Linked DNA regions of Homo sapiens. The protein of the gene in region 1 interacts with the protein of each later gene in a pairwise test. Each region holds a gene or a part of one and is shown on either strand. Other genes may lie near its edges.

Region 1 (3,819 bases):
TGGGAGGCTGAGGCAGGAGGATTGCTTGAGCTCAGGAGTTTGAGACCAGGCTGGGCAACATAGGGAGACCCTGTCTCTATTAAAAAAAAAAAAATAGCCAAGTGTGGTGGTAGATACCTGTGGTCTCAGCTACTAGGGAGGCTGAAGTGGGAGGATCGCTTGAGCCTGGGAGGCTGAGGCTGCAGTGAGTCATGATCCCACCACTGCAGTCCAGCCTGGGTGATGGAGCAAGACCCTGTCTCAAAAAAAAAAAACCACCAAAAACTGATGGCCGGGTGCAGTGGCACGCCTGTAATCTCAGGACTTTGGGAGGCTGAGGTGGGTGGATCACTTGAGGTCGGGAATTTGAGACCAGCCTGACCAACATGGAGAAACCCTGTCTCTACTAAAAATACAAAATTGGCTGGGTGTGGTGGCACAAGCCTGTAATCCCAGCTACTCGGGAGGCTGAGGCAGGAGAAATGTTTGAACCCGGGAGGCAGAGGTTGTGGTGAGCCAAGATTGCGCTGTTGCACTCCAGCCTGGGCGACAAAAGCGAGACTCCATCTCAAAAAAAAAAAAAAAAATTGATTAATCTCGCACAGCTTTTATAAATCTATACAAGTTTGAGTAGTTCTTTCTCAGTTTCTCAGTGACAAGACTTTAATTCATTTTATTAGTATATTTCAGTAATCTTAAGAGGTACAGGGTGATACAGATTATTTTATGTTTAGTAACACTTAATATCAACTTTCTTTTTGATATGGCAGTTTAGACAAGTTTCCGGAAGTAGTTTATAGGCATACTTCTTTCTTTCTTTGTATTTTTGCTTTTGGGTTTTTTTTTTTTTTTTTTTATCTTAAACTCCTGGGCTTAAGCAATCCTCCAGACTACCAGCTTGAGCCATCACACCAAGCTATTTCTTTTTTTAGACTGAAAATAGGGACACAGATTCATCTACTCATCAAAGTGTCAGTTTCTCTGACTTCTGTTTGCCACAGCTCCTCGTGGAAGGGGTCAGGGCCGCCCTCGTCACTGTGGTCTGTCAGGATTGGTGGGAAGGGGATCTCCCCTCATCTGCTCTCAGTTTCCCACTAAACCACTTTTGGAGAATATTCCAAAAACATTCTTGAAATTTTCCTTGTACAATCTGAGATTTTATAACTTCTGCAAATTACTTTCCTTCAATGGATGAAGAAGGACATCAATGATGTCAGCACGTGAAATATTAAATATTATGCTAATACCTGAGCAGGGCCTTTGACAATTGTGGTATTTTTTGTTGTTGTCGTGATGGTGGTAAAATATATCTAAAGTTGGCCGGGCGCGGTGGCTCACGCCTGTAATCCCAGCATTTTGGGAGGCCAAGAGGGGGCGAATCATGAGGTCAGGAGATCGAGACCATCCTGGCTAACACAGTGAAACCCCATCTCTACTAAAAATACAAAAAAATTAGCCGGACGTGGTGGCGGGCGCCTGTAGTCCCAGCTACTCGGGAGGCTGAGGCAGGAGAATGGCGCGAACCCGGGAGGCGGAGCTTGCAGTGAGCCGAGATTGCGCCACTGCACTCCAGCCTGGGTGACAGAACAAGACTCCATCTAAAAAAAAAAAAAAATTATATATATATATATATATATATATATATATATATATATATATATAGTTTACCATTTGAACTGTTTTTAAGTGGTATTAAGTATATTCACATTGTAATGTAACCTTCATCACCATCCAGCTCCAGAACATTTTCATCTTTCTTTACAGAGACCCTGTCCCATGAAACAGTAACTCCTCACTTCCCCTTCTCCAGCCCGTGTGATTTATTATTTAATGGCACAGTTCCCTGAGAAGAAGGTAATGCTATTCTCATTTTAGAGATGAGGAAATCAAGCTGAGAAAAGTCACCCGAGGTCATACAGTTAGTAAGTGGCTGAATGAGGATTCAAGTCCAGGTCTTTGCTGTTCGGAAGCAGAGTTTGCATGGCTCAGAGGCCCCCTGTGGCCTGCAGACATGTTTTGTTAGGTTGGCTTAGTGTAGTCAAACAATAAGACTAGTGGCTGACATTTAGAATTGGAAGATGTCATGACAGATCTGCATTTCTGGCTGCTCTTGAAGACTGTGATGATCCAGTGACATGGACTGTGTTCTTGTGTGGCCTGTGTGTCAGCTGGCACAGAGGGGTGGCTGTGCCGCATGGCAGGGCGGCACTCTTGCTGCCTCTCACCTGCATTGCTCCTGGCTCTGAAGGCTGTGCTCTGCTCACTACATTCCACTGTGTGCTCCTGGACTCACTTGTCCTAGAGATCAAGTTACCTCTTTTGCTGGAAGTATATCAGTGAGGATATTTTAATGTCTCAGCTGGATTCTCATGTTCAATTTTAGGATTTCCATCACCAAGGAGTAAGAAGACCTTCGGGCAGAGACTGTTGGGTATGCTCCCTTCAGAAAACAGTTCTAAGAGGATGGAAGACCAGGACAGTCCTCAAGAGGTCCTTAAGATGCTCATAGATTTGGTTAGTGTCTTTGCTTTTTTTTGCAGGTTATGGTTAAGCCAAGCTTGTCCAACCCACGGTCCGTGGGGAGCATGCAGCCCAGAACAGCTTTGAATGTGGCCCAACACAAATTCGTAAACTTTCTTAAAACATTATGAGATCTTTTTGATATATATATATATTTTTTTAGTTCATCAGCTATCATTAGTGTTAGTGTATTTTTTTGTTTTGTTTGTTTTTTGGTTTTTTTGTTTGTTTGGTTTTTGAGACAGAGTCTCTGTCACCCAGGCTGGAGTGCAGCGGCGCGATCTCGGCTCACTGCAACCTCCACCTCCCGGGTTCAAGCAATTCTCCTGCCTCAGCCTCTAGAGTAGCTGGGACTGCAGGCGCCCACCACCACGCCTGGCTAATTTTGTGTGTGCGTTTTTAGTAGAGACAGGATTTCACCATGTTGGCCAGGCTGGTCTCAAACTCCTGACCTCAAGTGATCTGCCCACCTCGGCATCCCAAAGTGCTGGGATTACAGGCGTGACCCACCATGCCCAGCCAGTGTTAGTGTATTTTATGTGTGGCCCAAGACAATTCTTCTTCTTCCAGTGTGGCCCAGGGAAGCCAAAAGATTGGACACCCCTAGGTTAAGCTAATCTATTTGCTTCCTGTTAATTCAACTCTTTATCTCTCTAGACTTGCACTTGCCTTCTATGTCCTTTTCCCAGTTGGAGTACCAGACTCTACCTTCATGATCTTTATCTCCCTCAGCTCATCTTTTCTCGTCATTCATATTCTTTCTGTGCAGGTTTAAAGGCTCCATCTTGGAAAACAGGGGGCTCCTGTAGTTAACTCCAGCCAGCTTTGCCATCTACATTTATATATATACAGTTTGTGACAAGTCTGCCTGTTTATTGAGGCATTTTTAAAGTGTTCAAGGCATTTCCTCACACATTATATCCTTTACAGTCCTGCTACCCACATTCCACATGGAATGACTAAACTAAGACACTGAGACTCAGGTTATATGAACATACTTATCTCTAGACTGTTATATATTTGCATACAAATATATGAAAGCAATTTTATATACAAATAACTTCAACATTATTTTATAAATATGCACGTTGATATATTTTTTATATGTTGATATTATATACCTATATATACACACTTCATATAGATCTATATTTTCCCTTCATTTCCAGATGACTTGCAAAATTTTCAATGCTGTCTTCTGTTTTTTTTTTTAAAAAATTATTTTTAAAAAATAATCGTCGGGGCTGGGCACAGTGGCTCATGCCTGTAATCCCAGCACTTTGGGAAGCCGAGGCGGGTGGATCATGAGGTCAGGAGATC
Region 2 (4,518 bases), on another chromosome or scaffold:
AATGTGGTATATACATATAATGGAATATTATTCAGCCTTATTAACAATGAAATCCTGTCATTTATGACACCATGGATGAAACTGGAGGATATTATGCTAAGTGAAAGAAGTTAGGCACAGAAAGACAAATATTGCATGATCTCACTTATATGTGGAATCAAAAATAGGGAAATACATAGAAACAGAAAGTAAAATGGTGAAGGGGCTGGTGAGGGAGAAATAGGCAGGTTTTGGTCAAAGAGTACAAAGTTTCAGTATTTATTTATACACAATAAATAAGATCTGGATGTCTTCTTACCATAAAGAGCCTATGATTCACAATAGTGTATTATATACTTAAAAATAAGTAAAGAGGGTAGATCTCACATTAAGTGTTCTTACCACAAAAGGTGGGGGAAGCCCAAAGGGGTGGAAACTTTTGGAAGTGATAGATGAATTTATGGGATTGATGGCATGATGGCTTAATGGTTTCACAGGTATATATACTTACCTCCAAACACATCAAGTTGTGTATATTAACTGTGTACAGTTATATCAATCATAGCTCAATAAAGCAATTTTTTAAAGTATGTATAGTTTTATACTTGAGAATATCTAATTATACAGAATTTGTATATATATGCATAGAAATTACATATTTAAATATATAATAGGGAGTATCTTGGAGTGAACTTTTATCTGACTAATTTTGTTCTTTTTCCTTACCTCTATTCTCTGTTATCTACAATCTGTCTATCTATCTATATTCGTTTGTTTAAGAAAAAAGTTAGATATACATATTCCCTCTTCATTATATTCGTTTTTCGGACGTTTTTGTCAAGAACAGATGTGGAGGAGTGAACAGATTACTCTACAAGGATGTTCATCAGTATACTATTTTTGGTAGCACTGAAGGGATCATAACCTAAGTTCCTAACAGGAAGAAAAAAGCTAGAAAAAAATCTACCCCAAAAGTATGACCTCATTCTTGGATGGAATCTCTCTGGTGCTTGCTCGCTGTCTCTCTCTCTGCCCCCTGTCTCTGCCCGCCCCGCCCCCCCGCCACCGTCCCCTCAACACACACTCATAACAAAGAAGCTAGCTATAAATCAGAGATTTACTTTTAGAATGCTAAAAAATATTAATCACTGCGTTAATAAATATTTCTGCAATGAATCCATCTGGGTAGTTTGGTTTTTTATCTGTTGAATAAAGAGTTATTTATAAATCATCTATTAATGTAGTGAATAGGTATTACTTTTGTGTCTGGGGTGTTGTTAACGCAAACTTTGCATCTCTTTGGATTTACAGTTGTTTATAGCAAAAGAAAAAATCTTTTCCTTTTTTCTTCTTTTCATGTAAACAACGATGGAAACGACGCACGTTCGCAACCCGCAAAGCATTAGAAAGACACCGGTGAAAGACGCAGCTCAAGAGGGCGCTTTGCAGAAGATGCTGGGAAATGTAGTTCCTGGCGGCCGCGTGCGCAGGCGTACTTCCTGGCTTGGGAACCACATCGCCCGACCGTGCTCTTTATTTTTCGGTGGAGCAGGTGAGCTTTTTCTTTCCCGACCCTTGCACTCGTGTGGGAGGTGGGGAGAGAGGTCCCCTTCAAACACAACCATTCGGGCGGGTCGGGAGAGGCCTGAGAATGCATTGGCCGGGCCCGGGGGCGGAGGAAAGCCGATTAGGTCAGGCTGGGTATTTGGTTCACGTTGCAGTGGAGGGGTGGTGGTGACCTGGGCCAGCATCCCGCTTCAGGGTGAGGAGGAGGCAAAGCCGTGTCTGCTCATCCCAGCCTTAACAGTCAGGGGCTTGGGTTCTCTTCTGGGTTGGAGAGTCATGAGAACAGAGCTCAGAGCTTTTGGGCCTTGCTTTGACTGTGATGGGGGGCAGTTTATCTGGGGAGGGGCAACCACCCCAGACCTTGGTGGTAGGTAGACCTGGGAATTGCAAGAAAACCGTGATATACGTATTTAGTGCCAACTAGAATTTAGGTTTCCCGACATCCAGTTCTTGCTCTTTCCTCAGAAACTCACCTCCTCTCTAGAGATAGCTTGTTTCGTTTTACTGGTAAATTTCTGAAGTCTCTTCTATAAAGAACTGTGGAATTGATTCCCTACACTCTGCGGGCGACGAAGAGCAATTGTTTGTTCTTTGAGATGGCATTTGTGAATGCACTTCGAAAAATTGTATATGCTTTACAAGTATTGTTAACAAACAAAGAGGGAGCTGGTGCACTCGGTGCCACCCATCATGGGAGGATAAAGTTAGCCCTGTTTCTGGTTTGTCAGATTGGACCAGTGACCAGAGAGAGGAATGTAAGTGGCCTTTCACTTTGTACTCTGCAGGGAAAGAATCTGTTCCTAGATTCATTCTGACATTTTTACAGAGGGTGTGGGTTATATCCAGGTAGTCAGACAGGCTTCTCATAAAGACAGTCCTGATTTCTCAGGGCCCCTTTCCTTTTTCAGCTCTGCTTTCTCAGGTCTCTACTTACTTATATAAGATGGCATCAAGAAGAAGGACCTGACCACTGGCCCCTGACTACATGGTCTTTGGTGAGCAAAACTTTTCAAGGCATTTGTACCTTAAGCTGGGTTTAATTTCTAAAGTTCCATCTTGCAGTGTGGAAAAATCATATGCAATTAAACGTCCCTTGATAATCTCTTTTATTGCTCATTATTTGCTCTCAATTTTTTTTTTTTTTTTTTTTTGAGACAAGGTCTCGTCCAGTTGCCCAGGCTGGAGTGCAGTGCACGATCTTGGCTCACTGCAACCTCTGCCTCCTGGGTTCAAGCGATTCTTCTGCCTCAGCCTCCTGAGTAGCTGGAATTACAGGCGTGCACCACCACGCCCGGCTAATTTTTGTATTTTTAGTAGAGATGGGGTTTCACCATGTTGGGCATCCTGGTCTCAAACTCCTGACCTCGTGATCTGCCCACCTCAGCCTCCCAAAGTGCTGGGATTACAGGTGTGAGTCACCGTGCCCGGCCTAATTTTTCTTTATAACTGACAAATAAAAATTTTATATATTCATCATGTGTAACATGTTGTTTTGAAATATGTATACGTAGTAGAATGGCTAAATCAAGCTAATGAACATGCATCACCTCACGTACTTTTCATTTTTTGTGGTGAGAGCACTTAAACTGCTCTCATAGCAATTTTCAAGAATACATTGTTATGAACAATAGTTCATAACGTGTATGCACATGTAATGTGTATACAACCATGCAATAATATACATGTGTAAATGTACCCCGACTATGTTCTTTAAACATTAAAATAACTCAGCATAGCAAGATGCTCACTTACGAGAGGGCTGTAAGAAGTGAGACTGAGGAAACAGGAGATTCTCCCATCTCACTCTTACCTTTAGATAACATACTTTCTTGAGCCTGTTGGGCAGATTTGTACAAATAAAATATACATGTGTGTCTGTAACGCAGCTCTGCTGTATTTTTTATTTCCTGAAATATCACCTCTGTCCAGAGGGAGGGAAAATTTTCTTTCTTTCACTCACTGAATAAATATTCATTGAGCACCTACTTTTTGCCAGCTAATGTTCTAAGCATTGGGATATAACAGTGAATAACACAAAGTTTCTGCCTATGTGGAACTGACAGTCTTGGATGGGCACACAGACAATAATGTAAACACAGATGTTCCTCAACTGAGCATGAGGTTACATTCCAGTAAATGTGTAAGTTGAAAATATTAATTCAAAAATGTACTAATTCACCTAACCTACTGAACATCATTCATAGTGATGAATAGAGGAAACTATACCAGAGTAATGGGGCTAGGGAAGGCATAGGACAGCTGTTATTTAATATAGGGGAGTAAGAGAAGGCTTCACTGGTAGATGACATTATAGAAAATGAGAATATGGGCCGGGCGTGATGGCTCATGCCTGTAATCCCAGCACTTTGGGAGGCTGAGGCAGGCAGATCACGAGGTCAAGAGATTGAGACCATCCTGTCCAACATGGTGAAACCCTGTCTCTACTAAAAATACAAAAATTAGCTGGGCGTGGCGGCATACGCCTGTAGTCCCAGCTACTCGGGAGGCTGAGGCAGGAGAATCGCTTGAACCTGGGAGGTGGAGATTGCACTGGGCCGAGATCACGCCACTGCATTCCAGCCTGGGCTACAGAACAAGACTCTGTCTCAAAAAAAAAAAAAGGAATATGAGCCTTGTAGATACTTGGGGAGGGGAGGGGGATTAGGGAGATTAAGTTCCTCAGCAGAAGCAACAGCAAATGCAAAGCCTCAAGGTGCAGATGTGCTTAACCTTTGTGGGAGCATCAGGAAGGCCACGTGGCCAGAGAGGGGTGAGTGATAGCAGCACAGTAGGAGTTGAGATGAGAGAGGTAAGGCGTGCAGACCACACAGCACACAGGCTAGTATGGCCACAGCCAGTTTGGCTTTTATGCTGAATGAGAAGAGAAAACGTAGGAGGTGATGGTGTTCGGTGTTATTGTTTATTCAGCTCTATTAAGATTTACATATAATTTACCAATTTTCATAGGGTTTT

What was found.
Region 2: the proteins of CCDC125 (region 1) and ZNF883 interact in binary tests that used the Homo sapiens proteins (3 or more experiments, as listed by UniProt).

The regions. Positions count from the first base shown.
Region 1 is NC_000005.10:69,284,011-69,287,829, reverse strand, and holds part of CCDC125 (coiled-coil domain-containing protein 125), read left to right. Parts: intron 1-2,362; coding exon 2,363-2,493; intron 2,494-3,819. UniProt on the Homo sapiens protein: May be involved in the regulation of cell migration.
Region 2 is NC_000009.12:113,009,163-113,013,680, reverse strand, and holds the start of ZNF883 (zinc finger protein 883), read left to right. Parts: upstream 1-1,488; 5' UTR 1,489-1,531; intron 1,532-2,453; 5' UTR 2,454-2,540; intron 2,541-4,518. UniProt on the Homo sapiens protein: May be involved in transcriptional regulation.